2 linked regions of the Homo sapiens genome follow. The protein of the gene in region 1 interacts with the protein of each later gene in a pairwise test. Each region holds a gene or a part of one and is shown on either strand. Other genes may lie near its edges.

Evidence for each region.
Region 2: the proteins of TRA2B (region 1) and YTHDC1 interact in binary tests that used the Homo sapiens proteins (3 or more experiments, as listed by UniProt).

The regions. Positions count from the first base shown.
Region 1 is NC_000003.12:185,928,015-185,935,295, reverse strand, and holds part of TRA2B (transformer-2 protein homolog beta), read left to right. Parts: intron 1-3,535; exon of another isoform or gene 3,536-3,719; intron 3,720-7,281. UniProt on the Homo sapiens protein: Sequence-specific RNA-binding protein which participates in the control of pre-mRNA splicing. Can either activate or suppress exon inclusion. Acts additively with RBMX to promote exon 7 inclusion of the survival motor neuron SMN2.
Region 2 is NC_000004.12:68,346,827-68,353,935, forward strand, and holds the start of YTHDC1 (YTH domain-containing protein 1), read right to left. Parts: upstream 3,265-7,109; 5' UTR 2,928-3,264; coding exon 2,900-2,927; intron 1-2,899. UniProt on the Homo sapiens protein: Regulator of alternative splicing that specifically recognizes and binds N6-methyladenosine (m6A)-containing RNAs.

The sequences.
Region 1 (7,281 bases):
AGCAGGCTTAACCTGATCTGGCCAAACCACTTTCAAAAGTAAGATCTCGTTTTCATCTCCGGATTCAAGACTCTTCCCCCAAAATTGCTTGCATTTTGTAAAGGGGTTGACTAGCACCATTTCTTTGTAAAAAGAGGCACTCCTGGCCTTTAAGTCACAATTACAAGAAGTTGAATAAAAAGTTGATGAAGTGCAGGGTAATCTTTAGAGCCCAATAATGGTCACAGCGTATAGGTTGTGTGAGATTTGTATGTTGGTCTTGCACGCAGTGTAATGTTCTGAGCCTCTCAATATTGTAATGAGTTTCTACGAGTGAGTCTTTACTAAAGGAATCCAGAAACTAAGGAGACACTGATGTATGGACCAGATGTTAAAGAAAATGTTTTGACCCAGCAGATACTCTGATAGAATACTGGCTATTATTTTTGTAAAGCCGATGTGATTGCAACATAGGCACGTAATCTTTATCATTAGAGATGAATAGCAGCATCTGGACACCAACCCATCAAACTGCTTTTCAAATTCTGCAGTTTTTCTCATCTTCTGCTGAATCTTGGGATGTCTTTTTATATTCCTTGGTTTTAGCTCCTAAACTCTAAATTCTAATTTTCAAAACTGAAACATCTCTGAATCTACTTCTTTCTAAAGAATTGCAGCCATCTCACCAAATTTCCTTTAAAAAAGGATTGAATTGTCAAATAGGAGGAAATTGTTTTGTATTGTGAGTCTGGTTAGGTTTATCAGTCTCTTGAAACCCGGTTGAAATATTTTTTTCTTGGTTTTAAACAAGAATGCTTTAATATTGTGGATATTGTCTGGAACTAGAACGTGACATTTTCAAGCTGACATTACAGGTGATTTTATAAGGTAAGTACTACTGGTTTTGCCAAAAGGTTGAAAAGGAATTCAGGTGGTGGGGGAAGTGTTAATGGGATTTGCCTTACATAGCGTTTTTTCCTCCTTTCTCTACAATAAAATCCGAACGTAGGTGGTAAATATTAATGCTTTCATAGCTATTTTGCCCAGGACAAGGGCAGAGCTACAGCTGTGTATATTTCTTGAGCCTTAGCATTTTATGTTGATCAGTGTTTTTACATATGCGACTGTTTTTTTAACAAGGCATGGTGACTGATGTTTAGGAATTTTAAGTGTTTTGACCCAGGTTAGTATTGGGGGTGTGGGCTATGTAGAATTAGATATTGAAATCACTTAGTCTTGTTTTTAAACTGCAAACCAAAAGAAGTTCTTCACTGTAGCAAATTACAGTCTTGAAATTCCCCCAAAATCTTTGCTTTGAATTGGGTTTTGGAGGTTACATTGAGATTGATGTTATCAACATAGATTGTTACCTGACAGTTTGGATAAGGGGCCCCTTTTTCTCTAATTTTTGTGGTTAGAAATTAGGTTAAAAGGTAGTCTTCTGAAAAGTCAAAAGATATTTATATTTGCTTTTGTTGGGGAGTACTGACTGTTTTATGAATGTAAATTTAACAGTCTGTGCTATATTTACAAGAGAGTTTTTATAAGCACAGGCCTACAACTAATTTCAGATGATGTTTTTTTCCAGACACTATTCTCCAGTTTTTGAGGATTTACTTATCCATTTACTCTTCTGGTAGACAGTTTGGCTGCCAGAAAAAAATATAGTCCTTATTATATTGATATGAGCATTGACCTTTCCATAACAGGATTAATGAGGTTTTCTTTGCCCCTGTCCCTCCCAATTTTTAAAATATTGCCTTGTCAGTCAACTTAATGAGTTTGTGCATGTTTAATGTTAAATGGATTCTAGTTGTATCCCCTAGAAACATTTTAACAAAAATTGTGTTGATAGGACAAGTTTCTGTTTATTTCTAACTAGGGTCTCTTAACTAAATGTACATAACATTAGCCCAAGAGTTGATCTTCTGGTTTTATAAAGTAGCCACTTGAACTTAGCTGAGTTGAATTAAATCTAATATTTATAATAATTTAGTAATGGTTTTGTTCTTAGACTATAAGAGAAGGAACCAGGTTAGGAAGGGGTAATGAAGTAACAGCAGGAAGGTATCCACATTGAAAACAGTTGTGATAGCTAGAGCTATGGCCTCTATTCTTGTATCTTCTGCATCTAAGTGCCCTGTCTGTATCGAAGTTTTAGGAGGCCCTAAGGAAACCTGCTTGGGCATTCTGATTCCATGATTACATTTGTGCTGCCAGAAAACATTTCCCATTGCATTTTAGTGATGGAGATTTAAAGAAAGCCAATTACTGTAACTCCCTTAAATAAAAACATATTTAAAAATTTTCGGATTAAATAAACAATAATTGACTCTAAAACTAGACTGGAAATTATCCTTTTGTTAGGAAAGACATCACAGCACTTGCCAGATTAACGATGGTTGTCTTTATGCCCAGATAGGTATAAAGACTTGCAATTTTTTTAAACAAAGCCTTACATTTTTTTCAGGAGGAAAAACCAGGAGAGGAAGTAATTGACAATAAAATGAAAGATCATCAAAGTGAAATGTAGGATAACAAGAAAAACTAGCATGTTTTATGTAGGCAGTATTTTATTTTGTTTAGTATGTTCAACAGACATTTACAGATCAACTAAATTCAATCTTTTTAATTATTTGAGGAGGTGAGCTGTAATTTAAATAGTGCCACCTTTTAAAGTAGTATTTCTCCTTTGGACATCCAGAAGACTTAATATTTTCTAAATTGAGGGGGAAAATGTACAACAAAACTCTTTGAAAATACCAGTGTTGGATTCAAGTTTGTTCTGCTTTCCTTCATAGCTACTGGCATATTGTAGGTGGTTGACTTGATTTTGTCTTTTTATGATTCATACTATAAAATCTCACTAGAGCAGCTTTTCCAGGGGGTGGGTTACACTTAAGCTCCAAATTGTCAGGTTCCCTGACACCGTCTTTCTGCAGAGCTCTTTAAATACAGTACAAAAATGTGTGACGCTAAATACGTTTCTTTATCCTATCTAGACAAGTCACAATACTGTAAACCTCTTCAACCCTGAGCGTTTGTCATTGTACAAATGAATTGTCCGTGCTTTCCTTTCATGCACTTATGTATTAATGTGTCACTTTTTGACTAGAGGTGTGCTTTTGACACTTAACCTATTTTCTATTGAATATAATAAGAAGTGTGAAATGTAACTAATAGTTCTTAAAATGTTAAATGAACAGTAAATGTTCAGTGGCGCACTTCACATTCAACTTAAGCATGATAAGTCTATTTGGAGTAGAGAAATGAGATTACCATATATTCTAGAACCAGCAGAAAACTATGTAGTTTTCAGTTTTTTGAGCTGCATATTCTAGTTTCTTTTTTTTTTTTTTTAATCCAAATCAACAAAGGGATTTTTTTTTTCTAGTTTCAGTTTTGGCACTGGATTTTATCCTGGAGTTTTAAAATATTCTTCATCCTGTTCTTTTTCTATTAAGGTTAATGTTGAAGAAGGAAAATGCGGAAGTCGTCATTTGACAAGTTTTATAAATGAGTATTTGAAGCTCAGGAATAAGTGAAGCTGAAATTTGAAAAAATAAAAGAAAGAATGCATGCTAATTATCAGACCAGAAGTCCCACTTGTAGAATATTGAGCAATTTGTGTGAAGTGGGGAAGATGAAAGAAGTCAGAATTTGAAACGGAAGAATGAAGAAAAGAAATAAAAATGAAGTTAAGATAAGAAGTAATCTGGAATCAGAAAGCACTACGCTAAGTAATTACTAGTCTGTTTATGTGTCCCTGTATATTTTGCTAAACATGCATGCATTATTTGTTTAATAGAGGAAAATATATACAGGGTAAAGAAGTGCCTTCCAGGGGAAACGTTTAAATTAGGTAATTCTGATTTTAACTGCTTAGTTAAATGATTGAAATGCAATTTTTAAAAAATATTTAGTAGTCAAGCACCAGGCAGCAGTGAGCTCTCCAGCATGGGTAACAGTGGGCTTCATGTTGTCCTCTCTAGATAAACTTTACCTGTCTAATGTTGCTGGTCCTGGGGCATGAGCGAATACCTCCAGGGTTGGAACTGGTGGTCTTTGCCACCTCCCTGGACTCTTAGATTGCACTGTCCCCTTTCCTTCAGTACTGAGCAATGTATAGTAGAATATTTTCTGTTAAACCATTTTCAAAGGAATGTCACCAGGATGGTTATGGAACCAAACCCCCAAAATCCAAACAAAGCATTGAACAAAATAGTTCCCTTTGGCATTAGTGTGTTAGTTTTTTCCATATGGCACTAGTGGAAATCTGTGAGCATTTGGGCCCTAAATTTAAGATGCATATTTGCTAAATACACAGGGATGGTTTTTCAAATTCTGTTTCTGTTTAATGCCTATTTCAGCTGATTGACTAGGATTACTGATAAAATACCGTAGCTTCCCCTTAGAAGAGGTGGGTCACACAAGTGAACAGGATAGCTAATACAAATTGCAGTAATGGCAGATGCTTTCATTCCTATTTCTCCTTTTTTGCTATCAACATTTAGCTATTGTAATGTTAGAGGTAACGGTTACAAAGTAGCTTTATTCTGGTTACCTGGTATCCCTTGCACTTATTGAGAAATTCAACCCAAAAGCTGTCCCTTCTTTTCTGTGTGTTTTGTTTTAGCTGAGTAGAAGGGTCAAGTGATTGGTGTAATGTTACTTTCAGTTGAATGAGACAAGTACACATATCAAAAATAATACCCAGTAGTAGTCAGCCAGCGGTTTTCTACCCAGTTGAGAATGCCAAGGGTATCATGTCACACATGTCTTCCTGAAATAAACTTTCTCTGAGAGTTGTCAGGTCTTCATGCTCTTGGAGAAAGTGACTTAAATGGCATTTCTTGGAGAATCCATTTTCTGATGCTTTCAGGCCTGTTTATTTCTATATCTTGCAAGCAGAAGAAAATTTTCTCTTAAGAAGTTTTGCATTCCTTTGTCAAATTTCTTGCCATAGATAAACTAATGATGATAAATGTTATTTTATGTTCCAAATTACTCAAAGAGCAGGCAGGAAACTGAGGTAAATGTGTGAATGAATATTACATTTTAATTCCAAGCCCATGGATTCTTTTATCAAGAAACCTGACAGGTCCTTGGGGTGCAAAAGAGGAAAAGACCTCTTAACCCCCAGCCCACTAAAGGAAAGAAAGCAATTTGGAATCTGGTTATGACCCAAGCTGGATAGACTTAAGGTGAGAAAACGTTGCTAGTGGACCATTGTGTCCATTTGTTTTTGTTTTCCCCCTTGACCAAAGCATCTGTGGGTCCTAATGTGTCTCCTCCTCGGGCCATAGGGAAGATGAGGAGGAGGCCGGCTTCTGTTCCTGAGAACAGGCAGTGTGTGAAAGACTGCCTTAATCAGAGGTCTGATTAATGCTAAGGGGAGTCAAAACAAGGAAGGGGATGACAGTGTTTCAGGAAGATAACCTTTGCCAAGGGAAAAAAATGAGTAGGAAGCATGTAACTTCTGAGGTTGACTAAGTCAAGTAAGTCAGACTTAACTAGTATGATAAACAGTGTTTTAAGAGATGCAGTGTTTATGAGCCACTATTTTAAATCTAACAAACCACATTCAGTTTTTAAAATAATACAGGGATTGGATGGTTAGTCCTTTCAAATATGTTTTTGTAAGGTGGTTGCTGTTCTCAGAATAGGGAGATGTGGATTATTTTGTTGGAAGGCTAAGTGTGTTGTATTTTTACTTGATGTATTCCCTTTAGGTTTTGTATTAGGATGTGGCTGAGATCCAGTCTGTGAGAGCTTGATTGATTTCCTGAGCATTTTTTCAGGGAAATTTTGGTTTTATTCATGCTAATTTTAGTTTCATGGTCCCTTTTTTTGAGGCAGTGGTGTCCAGTTCTGTCTGTTGGTGTGGTTTTAATGTGTTGACCATGTCAGCCCTGAGAGTGGAATTTGAAGTATGCTTAGATTTAGGGACTTCCCCAACTGGTTTTTATAGCTTTACCTGTCTGCATTGAGATTTAAAGTTAATTATGCTTTTGATTTGGGTGCTAATTTTAGGTCTTATTTCTTGTAGGCAAGTTTTATTCCCTTGCCATATGTATTTCCCAGCCAGTTAAATGGCCAAAATAACTTCAGAAAGCTTTAACTTCTTTAAGAAAATATCCCTGATAAAGGATCGAGACGTTTAGGTGTTACCCAAACAAGTGTCAGTATAGAAAAGGAAGCCTTTGCATTCTGGTATTTCCCTTATTCCTGGCCCAAGAAATGATTGCTTACAAAATATATCTGCATAGTCCGTTAGTTTTGGAGGCTGAGTGAAAACTCCTGTGATTTCAGAAATATTGTATCTGTGATCTGCTAGATTTTAAGGAGAAAACTTCATTAAGTCTTATTTTCTAGGTTAGGAGTACTGTCTCTTCCCTCAGTGGACAGGCTGCCGAAGCATCTTAGCTTAGAATAAAGGTTTTTCTGTTAAAGCCAGGAGCTTAAAGAGGATCTTGACTTGACCCATTCTTCCTTTATACTCAGATTCCTGGGCTGACTGATTTCTGTTAACTACAGTTACTTTATTGGTAGTCTTAACTGTTACTGTGAAACACCCATATTCTGCTTTCACTTCTGGAGAAAATTGTTTCATTTCCATAGAGGTAATCTTTCTAGTGTTGGAGTAAACAGGCTTTTAGCAACTTTTGGGTTCCCCATTTCTATATTCTCACCTATGTTAATTTTTGCCTGTGGTAAAAATAGCAAAAACTACACCCTCATTTTTGAGACTTCCTCCTTTGTCCATGGAGAGAAGGGAAGTGTCCGTTCAGAATACTTGATAGGGAATTCCAAGGGATTGTTGTTAATTGGAAGCCCCAGAGCATCACTACATCCTTTAACCATTTCTTGATGTTAAAGGCAGCTGTTCATATATTTTTCTTTTAATCTTTTTACAGTCAGTCATGGAGGGAGGTAGAGGGGAAAGGCTGTCACATTTCATGTCACCCCACCATGTTTTATAATGGCTTTGAAGTCATTTGAACGTTTCTAGAGTCGTCTGGGGCCTAGAGACCTGAACTCATTTTACTGGATGAGTTAGCCTTTCCTTCTGTGTTAAACCTCAAACCTTAATTTGTCTATTCTGTGTTACATTATAAATGTTTTCCCTGAGCATCAAAGGATCATCCAAATTTTCTCCATTATGTTGTAAACCACAAAACTATCTTCTAAAGTGTTTTGAGCTGTAATTTAGAATAATCCTCTACTGTCCTTTCAAGAATGTCCAGAATACTCTGAAGATGTATCACACAAGGAAATCTCTTGTGATTTTATCTGAAAGCT
Region 2 (7,109 bases), on another chromosome or scaffold:
AATTAAACTTCATCATAGGTATATACATATAGAAAAAAACATAGTATAGATAGGATATAGTAATATCCATTGTTTCAGGTATCCACTGTGGATCTTAGAACGTATTTACCAGGAAAATAAGGCTGGTAGAGGTTGGGGGTCAGGGGAGAACTGTTGTATAACTTAAACTGAGAAACTCTTAGCTTTCGTTATCATACTGCACATGTCATTTAACCAGTCAGTCAATGAAGTCCAACCTGGTAAATACTCAAGGTACTGAAACACAATTACTGTATACAAAGAACCCAGTGAACAAGACAGATGTACTCCGGGCACTCAGGGAGCTTCTAGTCTGGTAATCTAGAAAACACGTTATTTTTAACACAGTAACTCATTACACATTACTCATACACATTTTGGATAGATTAAACTTTTGTAACTGTTCTTTGTAGAGAACTTTGTAAAAGATTAATACAATTTATACAAGGTGTTTGCAATAATAGAAAAGATGCATATTTCCTCCTTATATAGAAAAATGGCATTTAATATTAGTTAACACCAACATTGCAACACCTTTCAAATCCAGTTTCTTGGGCAAATTATCACCACAGGAATCACAGGGAGCTAGCAATCTGTCCACTTATATGGGCTGCAGCTTCTAGGTATGAGTATTATTGAAGCATTGTTATAGATTATAGAAATTCATGTCTTTATTACCCAGATAAGTGCAAAACCCCATCAAGAACTCTATGAACAAGGGTCTTTACTGTTCTGTGATTAATATAATTGCCAATTTCTGCAACTTATAGACTCATTTGCTATCAAGATCTTAAACCATTTATGGAATCATTTGAGAAAGAACTTAACGTTTGTGACATGACTGAGATTTTTAGAGGGTTTATCCTTATAATTTCCTGTTTCATGTAAGACAATAAAGCGCTTAAGAGTCCCACTTTTCCTTAAGAGAGGAAGACCTAAGTATTGATTCTAACTATAAAGCTAAGTGTGTGATGATGATCATCAAGTAAATGATACAACCTGTAGGTTACCTAGAACTCTCCCAAAACGAAATAAACAATTCCAGTAGGTAAGTGCTAGTTCTCCGTGTAGTCCAGAAACAATCTTTGTTCTAAACTATAAAGATAAAGCACTTACATCAAGTTTTTAAATAAAGTTATGAAAATTAAATAAAAAAAACTAAGCAAATGTGAGGCAAAGAACCTTTTCAAAAGTGGGGAAATGTATCCTATGTATAGACAACAGGTGATATCACTACTTCCCAGTAATAGCTACACAGTTTATGTATTTGGACTGCATTATCATCACTAAATCATTTCTAAAGCAAAACTTTTAAAATCATCTACTTTTCTTCTTCAATGTGCATTACTGCGTCTACTCTATTAACGACTTGTAAATATTTTCATCTTAGACAACGAATTCTTGAGAAGTACTGAATTTTACTCATTTTTGTGTTTGGTTCATTTCGCCCACCACAACCACTACAGACTCCCATATCCACAGTTCATAAATTAGAAAGACAATCAGATGTTTGCTGAATACTTACTAATTAAGATCATGTATTTTAATAACTGAGTTAACTAATTAAAAGCATTTTCCTTTACTCACTAACACCATACAATCCTATGTTCCCATTACTTCTGGATTTCTCAAAAAAAAAAAAAAAAAAGGCCCAGGGAGATTTTTTAGCATTTAGTTTAAGGATGGAACATTAAACTGCTATAACCTAATCAAAGAACTACTTTAGGATAAGGGCAGTATCTTAAAAGTATTCCCACCCATTCCACTTTCCCAGCTTGTCCCTAACCTAGGGCAGTTCATTGAAGCATGAAGACTCTCCTGATGCAGAAACCAGAAAAATTAAGAAAAAAGGATTACACGCCTAATGTAACTTGACTCTAGAGCCCACTTAACAACCCCCGACAAAAAAACCCCAAATCAATTAGGCACACAGAAGAGATGTGTGAGACACAGAGCAGCGACCGTGTCATATTTTTAACTATAATCTTTCCAAGACTATTATGTTAATCTTAGGGTTGAAAAAGATCTTAAAGCAGCATTTAATCTAGACCACTCTCCAGAGAGACACTGATCTAGGACCTACATTAATATCTCTAGGGCTTGGGAACTTAGTATTACTATCTTTCCATTACAGCAACGTCAGTTCTCTCTACATTTCACTGAAATTTATCCCTCCAACTCTCTGTAACTTGCATTCATTTGTTTCTGACTGTACCCTCTGGGAGCTACACACGGTTTTTCTAACATAATAGCACCCAGGATTTCTTTGCCAGCCTAAGTCACACAGTCATCTTTCCAAACTAAGTATTCCTTTTTCCAAGTACTATGTTTTTCCAAAATAAGTATTCGAGGAACAAAACGGGTAATTCACTTTGCCTATTTAACAGGAACAGCCAGAAGTTATTTGCAGATATTTCTCAAGATTAATAACCTGCCAGTGCCACTTCCTAAACTTGCTCACTTACCACACCACCAGTGTTGATCGCGGCATTAGGGGTTTTCAAATTTTAGCCTAACAGAAATGGTTGTCCTGAAAATACGCGTTACATCCGCATGATCCTACCAGGAAATAAACCTAGGAGCTTGCAACTCAGAAAGGGCCCCTCTCAGCCCAAGACAGCTAAACGGAAAGTCAAGCGTGAAATCCGCATCAAAGAAAAACCCTACTGAGATGAAGTGCTAGGCCATATGGAGACTGAGGACGAAAGGGCAGGCCTGGTCTCCGCCAGAGTCTAAGTGTCTCGGTGGGGGCCACCGGCTCCTCGCGAGGCCAGCTAACCTCCCCAACCCCCACCCCCCACCCCCAACGACGACCACTGCTCCATCACCCCACTCCCGGGCCCCAGCCTCGCCTCGGCCCGTCATCTTTCTCCGCACTAACCTTTCTCCTCCCGACTGTCAGCCGCCATGGCTCCCCTTCGGTTTCCGCCGCTGCCACCGCCGCCGCCGCTTAGACGCGACTCGCGCGGGCGCCGCAGCCGCGGCAGAAGCACGGGCCCGTCCGTCAGTCCGTCTGCCCGGATACGCGCGTCGCACTTGGCCTCTTAACACTCAGCCTTCTCGACTCTTCCCGCTTTTTCCCTTTCTCCCTTCCTTTCACTCCAGCATCCAGCGGCCTAGGCCCAGCCTTCTCGTTAGGGCTCAGACTCGGGCTAGGTATGGGGGAGGGAAGGGAAACAGATGGCGACGGCGGGCGGCGCTAAAATGGAGCCTGCTTCCTGCGCGAAACAATCCCGCTCCCGAAATGCCCTGCGCTGTTTACGCTTCGTTCCTCTCTGGGAACGTCACAGTGCGGAGAGGGGCGGGGAGGCGGGGACGTGCAAAGGAACGTGACGTGACGTCAGCGCGTCGCCCTGCCGCCCTCAGCCCACTGGTACCTGGAAGGAGTCTTATTCAGGGATTAGGTTACCCAGGTTGTTCATGGAGTTCCCGCTGTACGGCCTATAACTGGATGGCGCAATTTTCCCACCTGAAACTCTTAGTGCAGGGCCTAACAGGCCTTCTTAGCTAGAGTCGCTCTAAAGGACTCCTGATTCAGTTCGGGTAATCGGAGTCTTATTTAGGACAAGTCTGGGTGAATCCCTTATGTTTACCAGATGTACTTTCTTAGTTGGAGTTCCACTCTTACCCAAAGGCAGTGCAGCATGCAACCAGCTTGTTTGTAGTCACAAAAGCCTGCTAGTTTTTGTTTGTTTTGAGACGGAGTCTCGCTCTGTCGCTAGGTTGGAGTGCAGCAGCGCGATCTCGGCTCACCGCAACCTCCGCCTCCCAGGTTCAAGCGATTCTCCTGGCTCTGCCTCCTGAGTAGCTGGGACTACAGGCGCCCGCCACCACGCCCAGTTAATTTTTTTATTTTTAGTAGAGACGGGATTTCACCATGTTGGCCAGGATGAAGTGCTGGGATTACAGGCGTGAGCTACCACGCCCGGCCTAGTTTTGTTTTTAATTGGGGAAAGAATTGTATCATAATAGGTCTTTGTAATTAATAACTAATTTAAACATGTTATCAAGGCCCTGGGGCACAAAATTGATTTAAGCAGACCATCGAGGAATCGAAACTACAGAATAAATGACCAGTAGATACATAACTACATAGTGTGGTAAAATCTGCAAGAGAAACTTGCTTAAGATTCATTGTCCAACGGAAACAATCTAATTTTGCTTCCTTGAACTATAACTGAGTTATAAGGGAAAGAAAAATCTGAAAAAGGTAACTAAGTAACTTCGTGATATGAAGACAAACTGGCAAACTAACTGCATATTCAGGGAAAGACAAGTAGTCTAGAAGTCTAGAATGTGGTACCTCTTTTTTTTTGAGACGTGGTCTCACTGTGACACAGGCTGGAGTGCAGTGGTGTGATCATGGCTCACTGCAACCTTGGGCTCAAGTGATCCTCCCACCTTAACCTCCCAGGTAGCTGGAACTACAGGCATGCTCCACCACATCCGACACATTTTTTGCATTTTTTGTGGAGATATACCATCTCCGCAAGATGGCTAACACCTAGCCATCTTGCCCAGGCTAGTGTCTAAATCCTGGGCTCCAGCAATCCTCCCACCTCGGCCTCCCAAAGTGCGGGATTACAGGTGTGAAGCCACCAGGAGTGGCCCCATTTCTAGGACCTTAATTGAACACTAATTTGAATATACGAACACGCACACGCCACAAACACACACACACACACACATTAAATAATATCTGATGATCCTGAGGAATTGCTATTTGTATTTTTAGTTTTAATAAGTTTTGCTTTTTAAAGAATTTCTTATAATTTCATGATTCATATGAAAATATTTGCAGGCCAGATGCAGTGGCTCATACCTGTAATCCCAGCACTTCGGGAGGCCCAGGCGGGCGGATCACCTGTGGTCAGGAGTTTGAGACCAGCCTGACCAATATGGTGAAACCCCGTCTCTGCTAAAAATACAAAAATTAGCCAGGCATGATGGCATGCGCCTGTAGTCCCAGCTACTCGGGAGGCTAAGGCAGAATTGCTTGAACCCGGGAGGCGGAGGTTGCAGTGAGCTGAGATTGTGCCACTTTCACCCCAACCAGGACAACAGAGCTAGACTCTGTCTCAAAATAATAATAAGAATAGTAATAAATATTTGCAAATGAAATTATATGGTATCTGGGATTTATCAAACTGGTGGCAGGTGTAGCGAAATGGGTAGGAGAATAGATTAAACAAGTCTACCCATGAGTTAACAATTGTTGAAGCTGGGCGATACATATGTGAAAGGAAAATCTCCCCAACATCACTAAGCCAAAGGAAGAAGTCAAGCTGGTGATTGATGTCTCATGTATCCCTAAAATGTATAAAATGAAGCTGTGCACGACCACCTTGGGCACATGTCATCAGGACAGCTTGAGGCTGTCATGGGCTCTTTCTTAACCTTGGCAAAATAAACTTTCTAAATTGATTGAGACCTGCCTCAGATACCTTTTGATTTCCACATACATTAGTTAATATTATACTCTCTTCTCTACTTTTTTGCATATTTGAGTTTCCTTTAATAATTTTTTGTAAAGAAGAGCATAAGAAAACAGCCAAGTAATTTAGAAGATATCAAAATGCCATTTTCCCTGATTCTACATTTGTCCTATTAGAACTAAGGAGTAATTTTTAATGTAAATAGAATTCCATATTTGCATCTTTGTTATTAAAATAAGTTTATGGGGCCAGCTGCAGTGGCACATGCCTGTAATTCCAGCCCTTTGGGAGGCCAAGGCAGGTGGATCACTTGGGCTCAGGAGTTTTAAGACCAGCTTGGGCAACCTGGCGAAACCACATCTCTGCAGAAAATAAAATAAAAAATAGCTGGTCATGGTGGTGCACACCTGTAGTCCCAACTTCTCTGGGGGCCAAAGTGGGAGGATTGCTTGAGCCGGCGAGGTCAAGGCTGCAGTGAGACATGATTACGCCTCTGCACTCCAGCCTGGGCAACAGAGCTGGACCCTGTCTCAAAAAATAAAATGAAGTAAGTTTATGTTAAACTAAGAGCACAGCTGTAAAAAAATGCGGTTTTTAATTCAGTCATGTTAGTAAATAGGAAAAGTTGTTGAGGTTATAAAGGATGAACTCTAGGTATGTTGAACATTGGTCTGAAGCTATTGTGTAGTGATTAAGAGAGTAAGCTTTGCAGTCATAATGACGTGGGTACAAATTCCAGCTCTGTCTCTCAATAGCATGAGACCTTAGAGAAATTAACTTCTAATCTTTAGTATCTTAATAAATGGGAATTTAGAAATAATTTCCAAAGGATTGCTATAATGTTTCAAATGATTTTTTTAAAGGCAGTTAAGTGATCAATAAGCTGGAGCTATTGTTATTTTTATTGTTTCTGTAGTTCAGGAAAGATGGATTGTTCTAACAATTATTGTTGGTGAACTTAACCAGAAAATGTAGTATTGAGTGACTCAGATTTTTGGCCTAGCTATGGGTGGAAATAACTTTCTGGGTAAAGATGCTGAACTAAAAACTTGCAGCCAAAAATCCTCTTCAGACCTCAGGGATCATCACAATATAATTGTAAAAATATAACAATGAACATGGAAGTACAGATATCTCTTTTGAGAGCCTGATTTCAATTGTTTTGGATATATACACAGAAATAGAATTGCTGGATCATATGGTAGTTCTATATTTGAGGAACTTCCATACTCTTTTTTTTTTTTATATAGTCGCTGCACCGTTTTACATTCCTGCTATGGTGTATAAGTATTCCAATTTCTCCGTATCCTTGCCAAAACCTGGTATCTTTTGAAACAACTTATACGTCTGTTGAAAGATGAATGGGTTAAAAAACATATGGTTTATACATTCAATTGAATACTATTCAGTCTTAAAAAAGAAGAAAATCGGCCAGTCACAGTGGCTTATGCCTGTAATCTCGGCACTTTGGGAGGCCAAGGCAAGCCGATCACTAGACGCCAGGAGTTGGAGATCAGCTTGGCATACATGGCGAAACCCCATCACTACTAAAAATACAAAAGTTAGCCTGGCATGGTAGCTCGCACCTGTAATCCCAGCTACTCAGGAGGCTGACAGGACAATCGGTTGAGCCTGGGAGGCAGAGGTTGTAGTGAC